Linked DNA regions of Homo sapiens. The protein of the gene in region 1 purifies or fractionates together with the protein of each later gene. This does not show direct contact. Each region holds a gene or a part of one and is shown in the gene's direction. Other genes may lie near its edges. The genes, in order: SLC24A5 and ABCB10.

The links.
Region 2: the proteins of SLC24A5 (region 1) and ABCB10 purify together in Homo sapiens (affinity purification with mass spectrometry; 3 studies listed by BioGRID and IntAct, with this or other methods). This does not show direct contact.

What each region holds. Positions count from the first base shown.
Region 1 is NC_000015.10:48,130,963-48,138,242, forward strand, and holds part of SLC24A5 (sodium/potassium/calcium exchanger 5 precursor), read left to right. Parts: intron 1-3,295; coding exon 3,296-3,379; coding exon of another isoform or gene 3,380-3,472; coding exon 3,473-3,576; intron 3,577-3,669; exon of another isoform or gene 3,670-3,921; coding exon 3,922-4,022; exon of another isoform or gene 4,023-5,720; coding exon 5,721-6,001; exon of another isoform or gene 6,002-7,280. UniProt on the Homo sapiens protein: Calcium, potassium:sodium antiporter that transports 1 Ca(2+) and 1 K(+) to the melanosome in exchange for 4 cytoplasmic Na(+). Involved in pigmentation, possibly by participating in ion transport in melanosomes.
Region 2 is NC_000001.11:229,527,500-229,534,779, reverse strand, and holds part of ABCB10 (ATP-binding cassette sub-family B member 10, mitochondrial), read left to right. Parts: intron 1-3,048; coding exon 3,049-3,144; intron 3,145-4,371; coding exon 4,372-4,581; intron 4,582-7,280.

The sequences.
Region 1 (7,280 bases):
AACATTTCAGATCCTTGCAATCCATGTGACATTATTTTACCTCCTGGGCCTGTTTATCTGTAAAATGGAATACCACCACTCATATTTCATGATAGTTGATATTAAATTATGTATATGGGAGTGCATTGTACACCATGAATATATTATTTACTTCATTTCTAAAATGAAAAACAGTTAATTACAGAGCCATCTCCTTTATCTTTTTGTTCTATGTTTTAAATATTATGGTCAGTTGTACACATCAGAATTGTAATAAGAATATAGTATATATGTGTGTCTATACATATATACACACACTGGTTAGAGTGATTATACGTATGCATGTATATGTGTATATGTATGTAATCACTCTAATCAGGAAAATAAATACTAGGAAATATGCTATGGTTTGGGTATTTGTCCACTCCAAATCTCATGTTGAAATTTGATCCTAAATGTTGGAGGTGGGGAGTAATGGGAGGTGTTTAGATCCTGGGGGTTAATCCTTTCCTAGGGGGTGAGTTCTCTCTCTTTAGTTCCTTTACAGAGCTGGTTGTTTAAAAGAGCCTGGCACCACCCACCTCTCTCTCTTACTTCCTCTCTCACCATGTGATCTCTGCACACACCAGTTCCCCCTCTATCTTCCACCATGAGTGGAAGCAGCCTGAGGCTCTCACCAGATGCCCAATCTTGAACTTTTCCAGACAGAGGAATCATGAGCCAAATAAACCTTTTTTTCTTTATAAACTACCCAGTCTCAGGCATTCCTTTATACACACAAAATGCACTAGGATACAATGTAAACTACAAAAATCATTTATTTCTCACCCTTCACTAGTCACTGCAGGTAGATGTTCAACAAGCAACATGACCAAAGGCAAACAGAATAGAGGGCCTGGCCTAAATAATTCTAACCACCCCAAGAGAACTTTTCACAATGGTTTTTCAGGTGTCAAAATAGCTTGGATTAGGGCTGGTTGGATCTCTCAGACCAAATTACCCCAAGGGATAAAATTAATGACTGGAGCTGGTATCATCAGCAGACAGTATGTAGGTGACAGATTTCTAAGTACTTCCCACATCTTTCAAAATGAAAGCCAAAGTCCTTATTAGGATCCACAAGACCTTACATGATCTGCCTATTACCTTTAATCTCATCACCTACTGCTTTCCCTTGACACTCTTCATTCTAGACATGCAGGTCTTCTGTTTCTTCACCACACAGACTAGCCTCTACCTCAATACCTTTGCAGTCATTTATTCTGCATAGAATACTTTTAGCCCAGGCATACAAATGACTCATTTCAAGGTCTTTAGTTACCTTCTCAATTAAGTCCTTTCTGGTTATCCAATCTAAAATTTCAATCCTTCCTCTCTGACATTTTTCTCTCTCTCCCCTCCCTGCCTTTACTCCTTGCAACTTATCTCTAACATCATACCTATTTTGCTTATCTTATCTGCTTCCCCTTACTAAAAGTAAAGCTCTGTGAGAGCAGGAATATTTGTCTATTTTGTTCACTGCCTTATTACTAGCACATTAAAAAAGCATCTGGCATATAGTAAGTACTCAATAAATACAACAAATAAATGAACCACCAGATGACTTAACTATCACCCCAAAACTAGTGGCTAAAAACAACAATTACTTTCACGGTTTTGGGTGTTTACTGAGCTAAGCTAGGTAGTTCTCACTCAGGGTCTCTTGTGCAGCTATGGTCAGAGGATGGAGCTAGAATCACCTGAGAGCTCACTCTCTCATATGTCTGGTGCCTAGGCTGGGAATTTTCAAAATCTGGGGACTGAAACAGCAGCAATTCCTTAGACATCTCTATTTCTATATGGGCTTTTCATGAGGTTTCTCCAGTATGGGGGTTTCAACAAAGTAGCAGGACTTACCATGTCGTAGCTTAAGGGAAATGTCCTGTGATGATAGTAAGGAAGTCGTATCACCTTTTATGTAGGGGATTAAAGGGTTCTGGAAAACTACGTGGAGCAGAAAAATACCATAACTATTATTGTAATATACAATCTGCCACACCAAGAAACACAAAAGGAATCAGTAAGCTCAAATGCCGTCCCAGCAGACTACAGAACAAGGTTCACCTGAGTGCAGGCAACAGGTGGTCCCAGAGACAAGAATAAGGAAATACCAACCACCTGTGACAGGGAGTCAACCAAGCACACCAGAGTTTGAGGGTCTGGGAAGACTGAAGCGTCAAAAACCAATAGGTATAGTAAACGACAATAAACATCAACAAAGAGTTGCCATCAAGTCTTGAAAACCCAAATTCTAGTTCTGACTTCGATACTAACTTTGTGACCTAGGGTAGATAATTTAATGTATGGCATGCTACCTCTATTAGCTAGTTTTTAGTTTATCAGTAAAGCCTGGTTGGGGATTTCTTATGCAAACCTATCTCGGCCTACGGCTTTCTCTGTTCCTTCCCATGGTAGGTCCCTTGGCCCTAAAATTGAAAGGACAAAAAACTTCTTAATTTAGTGACTCTCATCTTGTCAGTCCCTAAAGTTTATGAACTTGCATGCTTGTAAGCCTGGTGGATAGAAACAAACTGTAGTATTACGTATTTTCTTATATTCCTATTCTAGAGCAAAATTTTAATAGATCCATGTTTTAAATCAATAGACTACACAATATTAAATCTAGTTATTTTCTCTCATTTGTAATTAGACAACGTTGAAACTGCAAATTTTTTTAGAATATCCAGTTTTCTTGTGACTATCAGCCAAATTCAGCTACATTCAAATCATCAAAAATTCTCTGCATGGCAAACTGAAAAACCCCAGCCAAAGCCTCCCATATTCCGAATAATATTTTACACAAAGGTCCTATACCAGAAAATTTGAACGGACAGTTGAGATGACTTAACAGATGTGTGCAAATTTGTGAACAAGCTCTGTTCAGCTGCATTATACATCTAAAAAACTAACATCTTTTTTTTCTTCTTTGAAGTTGGGTTAGGATTTCCAAATTATCTTAATTTTCAAAGCCATGCTGTTGCTACTCACCTACAAGCCCTCTGCCTCTGAACGCTTTTCTGGGTTCCAAATAACCCTATGTTTGGCACTCAGGATATTCCCTTTAGTCTCCTGGCCTTCCCTCACCCTTTCTATAGAAGCATTAAGTAATGAAGTCATAAAGAAGCAAAACATTGGACTCTTTTAATCTGTGTATTTTATTTTTCTAGTTTAATAGTGGTTTTATGTGAAGCTGTAGCTTTGAGTATCTATTGTGTTTAGTTGTAAAGACATACTCTTTCACTTTATTAGGCATAACAATCATTTCATTTATGTTCAGCCCTTGGATTGTCTCAGGATGTTGCAGGCACAACTTTCATGGCAGCGGGCAGTTCAGCTCCTGAATTAGTTACTGCTTTCCTAGGTAAATATTGCTCCTTATACTTCTTGCTTACTCAGTGTGATTTTTATTTTCTTCAAGTTAACACTAACTTAGCTGGTACTATCTTGCACATAGGTGTATTTATCACAAAGGGAGATATTGGCATTAGCACCATCCTTGGATCTGCAATTTATAATCTCCTTGGCATCTGTGCTGCCTGTGGTTTGCTATCTAATACGGTATGTAACAAAACCATTCAACAAAATGTATTGTCTTAAAAAATTCTAAAGATAACTGTTCGTCGTCTGGGATGGACAACAGGGCACTAATAATATGTGCAATCAAATTTATTAATCAGTAGAAAAACAACATGTATTCAATTTAATGTTAATCCACAAATAGCTCTTGGTCAGATTTATGAAAGTCTGTGTAAGTTAGAACACAATTTTACATTTTTTTCTCTAAGCAATATGCAAAAGATAACAATATTTAACTACAAATATATAAACAATTTTAGTATTATACTAAGGATTGTACTTGAAGAAGTTACAATGTAATGGAAATAATAACTTACCATATTACAGGTCTCAACACTATCATGTTGGCCCCTATTCAGAGACTGTGCAGCGTACACAATTAGTGCAGCAGCAGTTCTTGGTATAATATATGACAACCAAGTTTACTGGTAAGCTTGAAAATAATTCTTATGTAAAAATTAGAGATTTTATGAATTTCTGATGGTTCAGTAATTTTTTTTCAGAAATGTTATTTCAGTCACTTAATCTGCCACTTCTATACCATATTCCAACAGGTCTGTGAGTTAACCTCATCACAATTGCTGATTGAGTTCTTCTCACTAGTTTGCAATTTCTTCTTAATCACTTCACAGTCTCCTTTTTTCTCTCACTAGTCACTGGAGACCACCACTTTTCCTTCTCCCCACTGGCTGCCTATTCAGAAAGTTTCCCAACTCCTGTTGTCCATTAAAGCCACAACAGTTGACTTTTTCTTCTGCTGGGTTACTGCTCACCTTGCCTTGGTTAGAAGTGTTCATGGCCACAAAAGACTGGAGAAGGATGGTAGAGGAAGTAAAAGAAGTCTTTTTAAATTCCTCCAAACTTCTGATGCTCATTCAGGAGAAACTATAGCCTTCCTCTAAGAAATAACAATGCTTAGCTTTTCATATTAAAAATTGTTTGCTTTCCTTACAATCTCTCTGTGCCTAGCTGGTCCAAGAAAATGAAAAAGGTGGTGACTGAGTGGACAGATACTAACTTTTTCAACTAGTAAGCAGCAGGCACCTACTAGGTCCTTCTCACTATGCTAGATATCATAAGGGATAATGAAATGTAAAACACAGCTACACAGGTTATATACATTGCATAACTCCAGAGGACACCAGAAAAATATGAAAAAAAAAAAATGTAATGGTGTCCATCTGGAGAACCATAACCTTGCAGCACGGCGTAATACCTGCTATCAAGAAACTTAAAACCTAGCCAGAAGCATAATTTCTAAACTAATCATCCTGTCCTCTAGTCCGTCTCCCTAAGACACTGTGTTGGTAGAATAGAAATCCTTCTAGAACTCAGCAGTTGTCTGTAAGGGATAGTGACTGTGAGAGTATCCAAGCTAATTCTTCCTCCATTAGGGAAATCAGAACTGTTCTTTAAGATACAGCAGACAGAGATTCACTGGCTATAAAAGGTAAATGCAAGGTTCAAATGTGATGGCATTAGCTAACTGCCAGAGTACAGGGAAACAGTTCTTGGTTCCAAGGGTATAATTTTATATTTTAGAACATCTTGTTTTCTTGTGACTGTAAGCCAAATTCAGCTACATTCAAATCATTAAAAATGCTCTGTATGACAAACTGAAAAATCCCAGCCTAAGCCTCCCATATCTGAGTAATATTTTACACAAAGTTCCTATACCAGAAAACTTGGACAGTTGAAATAACTTAACAGTTACTATATTATTTTATAATTATTATGTATGTTGGGGAATGTATTATGCCAATGAGCTGAGGCAGAAAATGTTCACCACTATTTATTAATTTTACATTTATTTTGAAAATCTCCAATTATCATTTTCCTTGCATTTTTATACCTATCATTTGGAAGGAATCTACAAGTAAAAACGAGTTTGTTGATCTTGTTTTTAAAAAAAAAAAAACAACACAGAAGTGTCCAGCTTTTATCAATAAACATAATAATGCTGTAATCAAGTCTGGACAAATCTACAAAACAAAAAATATCTAGAAATGTTTGATTGTTCTATGGCTACTTTTGTTAGAAAATCATTCAATAGATACTGCCCAAAAGCTATCAACTCTAAAATGACTTTCACTTTTAATTTAAAAACACAAATTTCTCTTTTGTAGGTATGAAGGGGCTTTACTGCTTTTGATATATGGATTGTATGTTTTGGTGCTGTGTTTTGACATTAAAATTAACCAATATATTATAAAGAAATGCAGTCCTTGCTGCGCCTGTCTTGCCAAAGCTATGGAGAGAAGTGAACAACAGCCACTGATGGGCTGGGAAGATGAAGGTCAACCATTCATTCGTCGGCAATCAAGAACTGATAGTGGAATATTTTATGAAGATTCTGGCTACTCTCAGCTCTCTATAAGTTTACATGGCCTTAGTCAGGTTTCTGAAGGTAATCACTAAATCTTGCCCATTATTAAGTCTATTCGCAAAGGAAAAACTTTAAAATTTCATTTCAATTCAGCAAGTATTGTGTGCTTTTTATGTAAAAAAGACTGTGAAGACTCAGAAATGATAAAGACCAAGTCCCTACCTTTAAGGAACTTCCAATATCACAGGAAATACAAAATAGCTAAAGTATGAACGTTAAGTACCATAAAAAGAGAAAAATAAAGTGTGACTGTGGTTCACAAATGGGACAGATTGCCAAAATGTGGTGAGGACAGATAGGAGATTTTCACAGAGAAGGGAGCATTTAAATTGGGCCTTGCTGGACAGGAAAGACTTTAACTAATGACATATGTTATGACCAATAAGTAGCAGCTACTGAGGTCTTCATTCCATAAATGATGCAGAGATAAAACACATAGAGCACAGTATGTGCATAGGAAGGAAGGAGAGGAAAGGTAGAAAGGAATAGGATAAGAAGAATCTTAAATGCTATTTTAAGAATCTTGGAAGGTTTCTGAGGAGAGAAATTATTAGAACTGTTATCTTAGTAATGTTACCCAAAATGATGTTCACCGAACTAAAATATGAAGAGACAAAGAGGTCTGTAAGAGAGGCTATTACAACAGCTGATGTGTTTACTAGGTGCCTAGACCAAGTGAAAGTGGTGGGAATAAATGAGAACAGATGTGAGACTATATGAAGGAAGCATCACCAAGACTATATGGGGCCAGAAAAAGGAACAAAGACACCTCCTATGTTTTAATCTTGACTGAGAAAATGGGAACAGCACTTATTAAAACTGGGAACTCAGAAAAAGGGGCTGGTTTGGAAGAAAGAAGAAAAACAGCTGAGGTTTACCATTGTTTAAAGCAATAGCAAAACTTTTAGGTAAATAGGTTCAGTAGGAAGTCAGAAAATTCAGCTATGGTCAAAATTATAAGTTCATGGGTTACCTTTTTATAAAGTGGTTGTCCAAAACAGATTCTAAATTTAATTAAGCCTTTAGGAGGGTTTTATTCTAATCTACTACTTAAAATTTTAAAACATGACTTTTCCCCCTTTTTACAAAAATTTTAGCTTCTACTCTTTCAGGTATAAGAGGTATGCCTCTCCAAATTAAGTTTATAATAAGAAACGCAAAAGAACCAATCCAAATTCTTTGATTATGTTAAAATTATATCTAATATTACTTAATGGCACATTGGTTGAAGCTTGGCAAACTTTTTATGAGTTGTTGTACTAACATTAGTTTTAACATGATTTCATCCAATTGTTACATT
Region 2 (7,280 bases), on another chromosome or scaffold:
CCAGCCTCAGCCTCCCGAGTAGCTGGGACTACGGGTGCGTGCCACTGCGTCCAGCTATTTTTTTTGTATTTTTAGTAGAGACGGGGTTTCACCATGTTGGCCAGGCTGATCTTGAACTCCTGACCTCAGGTGATCCACCTGCCTCGGCCTCCCAAAGTCCTGGGATTACAGGCATGAGCCATCCACGCCTGGCCTAATTTTTGTATTTTTTTTTTTAGTAGAGACAGGGTTTCACCCTGTTGGCCAGGCTGGTCTTGAACTCCTGGCCTCAAGTGATCTGCCCACCTTGGCCTCCCAAAGTGCTGGGATTACAGGTGTGAGCCACCGCACCCGGCCAGCATTGGCAATTTTTGACATCTCTATGGTGACCGAATGAATTTTTTTCTTACAAAAAAAATTTTAGTTTTGTAAGAAACTCCCAAACTGCCTTCCAAAATGTGTGTCCCATTTGCATCCCCACTAGCAAGGAATGAGAGTTCTTGTTGCTCCACATCCACCCCAGCATTTAGTGGCGTCAGTGTTCTAGCTTTTAGCCATTCTGATAGATGCATGGTATTTCATTGTTGTTTTAGTTGGCATTTCCCTGATGACATATGATGTTGAGCGTCTGTTCATATGCTTATTTGCTCTCTGTATATTTTCTCTGGTGAGTTGTCTGTTCAGGACTTTTGACCATTTTTAAGTAAGTCTTCATGTTTCCGTATTGTTGAGTTTTAAGAGTTCTTCGTATATTTTGGGTAGCAATCCTTTATTGGATAGGTCTTTTACAGATATTTTCTTCCAGTTTGTGGCTGGTCCTCTTCTTTTCACATTGTCTTTTGCAAAGCATACATTTTTAATTTTAATGAAGTCCAGCTTCTTTCTTTCATGGATTGTACCTTTGGTATTGTATCTAAAAAGTCATCACCAAATTCAAGGTCATCTACACTTGCTCCTAGGTTGCCTTCTAGGAGTTTATTGTTTTGTGTTTTACATTAGGTCTGTAATTCACTCTACATTAGTTTTTGGGAAAGGTGTAAGGTCTGTGTCTAGATTCCTTCTTTGCATGTGGATATTCAGTTGTTCTAGAACCATTTGTTAAAAAGATAATATGTATATTGCCGTTGCATCTCCATTGTATTGCGTTTGCTTCTGTGTCAAAAATCAGTTGACTGTTTATGGGGGTCTATTTTTGCCAAATGCATTTTTAATTCAGCCTAAAAATTTTAGTCCATTGTATCTTGCATAAATATTCATACTGTAGAATATTTGAATTGTATTTTTTCAGCATCCTCACTGAGGGAAAATGTTACAAATGTATGTCCTCACATTTGATGTAGACCATTGCATTTGGGGTTTAAGTTGTTAAATGGTTCAGGCTAGGCATGGTGGCTTACACCTATAATCCCAGCACTTTGGGAGGCTGAGGTGGGTACATCACTTGAGGTTGGGAGTTGGAGACCAGCCTGGCCAACATGGTGAAACCCCATCTCTACTAAAAATACAAAGATTAGCCAGGCATGGTGGGGGGCACCTGTAATCCCAGCTACTCGGGAGGCTGAGGCAGGGAGAATTGCTTGAACCTGGGAGGCAGAGGTTCAGTGATAGATACTACACCACAGCAGAGCAAGACTCCGTCTCAAAAAAAAATAATAATAATGGTTCAAAGCTGACTTTAAAAAGGGATGGCTAGAGACCAGGGACGGTGACACACACTTGTAATTCCAGCACTTTGGGAGGCCAAGGCAGGAGGATTGCTTGAGCCCAGGAGTTTAAGACCAGTCTAGGGAACATAGTGAGACCCTGTCTCCACAAAAAAATAAAAATAAAGAGATTGCTGGAATGTTTAACATTAACCAAATTTATTTCAGTTTTTACTACTGTGAAAGTTTTGTTGTTGTTGTTTTTTGTTTTGAGACAGGGTCTCGCTCTGTTGCTCTGAGTGCTGCCAGAGTGCAGTGGTGCAGTAATACCTCATTGCAGCCTTAACCTCTTGGACTCAAGCAATCCTCCTGCCTCAGCCTCCCAAGTAATTAGGAATATAGGCACATGCTACCAGGCCTGGCCTTACAGTTATTTTTTGTAGAAACAGGGTTCTCTCTATGTTGCCCAGGCTGATGTTGAACTCCTGGGCTCTAGCAATCCTCCCACCTTGGCCTCCCAAAGTGTTGAGATTACAGCCATGAACCATTTTGCCTGGCCCTTTTTTTTTTTTTAAACATAGCATTACATTGTATGAGGTATTATAAGTAATCTAGAGATTACTTGAAGTATATGGGAGTATGTGAGTAGCGTATCAAAGTTGTATTTATTGAGTGGCTGAAGGTGAGGTATTATTTTGTGGATTTGTCTTTAAAATCAACATTGAAGTATTTTATATTTTTTTAAATTATGAGATAGCATTACATTTCAGTTAAATTACAATGCTTTTAACTAGGTAGATTTCCTCTGCGGCATTATGATTTTAATCCAGTGGTTGATGAGTATGACTATATATGTTTTTCAATCCCTGATCAAACATTAAGTCCTTATTAGAAATCAGTGAAATGTGGCCAGGTGCAGTGGCCCATGCCTATAATCCCACACTTTGGGAGGCTGAGGCGGGTGGATCACCTAAGGTCAGGAGTTTGAGAGCAGCCTTGCCAACATGCGAAACCCCATCTCTACTAAAAATAAAAAAATTAGCCAGGCCTGGTGGCTTGCGCCTGTAATCCCAGCTACTCGGGAGGCTAAGGCAGGAGAATCACTTGAACTGGGGAGATGGAGATTGCAGTGAGCTGAGATTGTGCCAGTGCACTCCAGCCTGGGTGACAGAGTGATGATCTGTCTCAAAAAAAAAAAAAAAAAAAAAAACTATGAAACTGGAGGAGGAGAAGCCAAAGGAAAACTAGAGTATGAGACAAGCAATTCTGAGTATCAGTTCCCAGGAAGCTGCCTCAAGTTGTTTTTTGAAAATATTAATAACAGATTTTATATTAAAAGCAATCATTGTCACTCCTCTCAGAGGAGTGGTGGCCAGTGCCAGTGCCAGTGATGGACATGTGTGTGGATTCTGCTTCTCATCCTCAGGTCTGAGCTCTTTCTACTCGGAGCTGATGAAAGGACTGGGTGCAGGGGGGCGCCTCTGGGAGCTCCTGGAGAGAGAGCCCAAGCTGCCTTTTAACGGTGGGTCTGAAAATTGTTTCTTTGCTAGGATTAACAAATGTGGCTTTGAACAATGAGACCAGCTCTTCCCCTGTCTGCAAGGGAGTGAGGGATGAGCCACAGTAAGGATGTGGCTCCTGCTGCATGGCGGGCCGGGTGAGGAGGTGGTCAGGTTTTCTATGAGAGGGGGTGGGACAGCTGCTGGGGCACTGTTGTGGGCCAGGGTGTCCCTGGATGCATGGGCTGGCCACATAGTGTGCTGCCCTCTGTTCCCCTCCCTCCATCTGGGTGTTACCGCAAAGGGCAGGATGGAAGTCAGTGTGGCCCAGGGCTGTGTCCCAGCTAGTTTACCAAATTGATCTTCCCTAGTGATTCTGACATCTCTGTGGAGGGCTAGGGTGGGAATAAGGGAGGAGGAATCAGACATAAGAAAATATCTAAGTTTCTTGGCATTTTGGTGTGGGGTAGGGGAGGCTGGTACTCATTGGCTGGAGCCATCTCCTTCCTTATCAGTGACTTCCCTGGAGCTGTAGGGCCTAAACCAACTAGCCAGGAATCAGGAGAAATGGCTATGAGTAGTAACCACTCCCAGCTGCTTATTGACTTCCTAGGACATTGTCAGGTAGCCCCAGGTCCATAAATGAAAGCCCAATATTCTCCAATGTGATAGGCCTAGGAAATAGGTCCAGCTGAGAGAGTTTCAGTAGTGTCTCCCAAAGCACAGTAGGTGAACACCAGGGCAGAACAGACCTCTGACCCCTCCAGTTCTGCGGCTGCTGTGCAGCGCTCCCCGTTTCATCATAACTCTTCCAAAATATTTATTCCGGGTAGGTAAGATAAACTCTGGAGCTACACAGAGGCAGTGGCATAGAGAGAAGGCCATCGGATTTGAAACCAGACTAACAAGGGTGGATCTTAACTCCACTACTTGTTAGCTTAAGCAGGTTGTTGTCTGTGGTCTTCAATGTCCTCATCAGCAAAATTGGAATTATAATTTCTACCTCTCAGGGTTGTAAGGATCAAGTAAGACCGTCTACGTATATAGTACCTTGGACATAGTAGGTGCAGAGTTGGCACGTGGTAAGCATTTAGCCTAGGTTTGCTTCTGACTTGCCCTTTAAGAGCTCATATACCAGGATTAGCTGTGGTGGAGTCACCCATCCATAGCCAGATGAGTAGGAGAACCGAGTTCAGCTTTTGAGTTTAATTTTTTGCTGTAAGTAATTAATATTCCATTTTATGTTTCAGAGGGGGTCATCTTAAATGAGAAAAGCTTCCAGGGTGCTTTGGAGTTTAAGAACGTGCATTTTGCCTATCCAGCTCGCCCAGAGGTGCCCATATTTCAGGATTTCAGCCTTTCCATTCCGTCAGGATCTGTCACGGCACTGGTTGGCCCAAGTGGTTCTGGCAAATCAACAGTGCTTTCACTCCTGCTGAGGTTGTACGACCCTGCTTCTGGTAAGCAGTTCACCACACTGTAGCACCGAGGGACTCTCCCGAGCTCTGCTCCCACTTTTGCGCCCTAGGAGATGCTCAAACCATGCAAATACCTTATTTTGTAGAGTACCTTCTTTTCTAAGTGCCAGTGGAAAGAAATCCCTCAAACAGAAGGTGTCATTTGCAGGGGCATGACAGCTCATACAGAGGCCTTTAGAGCTTTTTGTGTGTAATGTGTCCTACCTCTTCAAGCCCAGAGTGACTTCCCCAGATCTACCTCCTCATCTCCCATGCGGGTATCTCCTCTGGACATGCCCTCTACTGGGAGCAGGTGGACGAGGCTGTGCTCAGCAGCCAGGACAGAGTGCCTGGGGTGCTCCAGCAGCACCCTGGAGAACCACCGTGTGCCAGTGCGCGTGCTGGGCGCAGGAGTGATAGGGAGCTCCTGGAGAACCTCTGCCTCTGCCTGTGAGCCATTGAATGCTTATTGTGCACACAGTTAACTTGGCCATCAGTGATTCACTTCTTTTTTTTTTTTTTTTTTTTTTTTTTGAGACAGTCTTGCTCTGTCGCCCAGGCTGGAGTGCAGTGGCGCGATCTCAGCTCACTGCAAGCTCTGCCTCCTGGGTTCCCGCCATTCTCCTGCCTCAGCCTCCCGAGTAGCTGGGACTACAGGTGCCTGCCACCACGCCCAGCTAATTTTTTGTATTTTTAATAGAGTTGGGGTTTCACCGTGTTAGCCAGGATGGTCTCGATCTCCTGACCTCGTGATCCACCCGCCTTGGCCTCCCAAAGTGCTGGGATTACAGGTGTGAGCCACCGTGCCTGGCCAGTGATTAACTTCTATGTGACTGTTCCATTGAAACTATTTTGACCTAGTAGGGATTTTCTTTTTTTTTTTTTTTTTTTTTTTTTTTTTTTTTTGAGACGGAGTCTTGCTCTGTTGCCCAGGCTGGAGTGCAGTGGCACGATCTCAGCTCACTGCTGCAAGCTCCGCCTCCCGGGTTCACGCCATTCTCCTGCCTCAGCCTCCCGAGTAGCTGGGACCACAGGCGCCTGCCACCATGCCCGGCTAATTTTTTTTGTATTTTTAGTAGAGATGGGGTTTCACCGTGTTAGCCAGGATGGTCTCGATCTCCTGACCTCGTGATCCACCCTCCTCAGTCCCCCAGAGTGCTGGGATTACAGGCGTGAGCCACCGCGCCCAGCCGGGATTTTCTTAATGGATGATTTTTCTCATTCTAGTTTTTATTTTATTTTTAACTGGATTATAACATCTTTAAGAGCAAAGAGCACATGATTTTACTTCTATCTTCCCTGTAGTAGACAACAATGTCAGCAAGCAAACAACTCTTAGTAAAAATCAAATCATGAATTTAGAAAGAATATTTTGGCCAGATGTGGAGCCCCACACCTGTAATTGCAACACTTTGGGAGGCTGAGGTGGGAGGATCACTTGAGGCCACAAGTTGGAGACCAGCCCGGGTAACATAGTGAGACCCTGTCACTATTTATTAAAAAAAAAAAATTCTGTAATTTAAAAAATGAATGTTTTGTGTCTTTGTGCTTATGCTTTTTGGTTAAAACAATGTGAGAGCTGGTTACATGTCAGATAAATATGTGACTTGCAAATCCTGACCCATGGAATCACCACCTGTGTTAAAATGGGGCTTACTACATTGTTTGTCTCTGGAATCACTTTCTTGATTCACCATTCACTTGCTATAAAATTTGGAGTTTAAAAAAATCCTAGTTAGCTGGGCACAGTAGTTCACACCTGTAATCTCAGCTCTTAGGGAGGCAGAGGTGGGAGGATAGCTTGAGCCCGGGAGTTTGAGACCTGCTTGGGCAATATAGTGAGACCTTGTTCTCCATAAAAAGGAAAAAAAAAAAAGACCAAAAAAAATCCTATTTAGGTTGCTGTAATTCAAGTAAAAATACTGAGTCTCTAGTTTCTTCATCACAATGAATAAATCCAGGACAAAGCAAACTGCAGTTAAATGTCTGCCATGTGTAGTCTATAAAGAGCTTTGTGCTTTTTCGTCAAAGACCTCAAGTTTTTGCCAGTTTGTGAACATTTCCAGCTGGCTTCTATAATTCCACAACATTAACTGAGAAGAAATGGCATTTCTTATGCTGTCACTGTTGTCATCATCACCAAGTTTTGTTGAGCACCCTCAATGTGAAGAATTCTGTTAGCAAAAGTCATAAAGATAGCGTCTGATTATTTAAAAGCTCTGCCATGGTATCGACCAGATTCTTAGTTGCAGACAACAGATTCCTCACCAACTAAGCTTATTACAGAAAGGGATATTTTAAGGAGTAATAAAAGAGCTCAAAAATCACTGGCAGGAATGACAAAATAGATTCTAGATTGTACTTCCAGGACAGTTTGCAGAACTCCACCCCAGAACCAGGCCTTCAAGGTAGCTGCTGACACTGGCATGGTCAGGAAGCTACAAATTTAGGCAGTTGCTGTCATGAATGCCAGCTTCAGAGCTGTGCCACCTCTGCCAGTATTCGTGCCAGCAAGTGGATGCCTCATGGCTTGCCCCTCCCTTCTGAATTAAAGCTTTGCACAAGTGCATCTTATCGGTGGAATCCTAAGTCACTAGGGAGTTTTGGGAAAACTCCCTACAACCTCCGGAGTACAGGAAGGCAAGCTGGACAGATGGACTCGGTGAGATAGTCATCCAGCTACTATCGGGAGACAATAACTT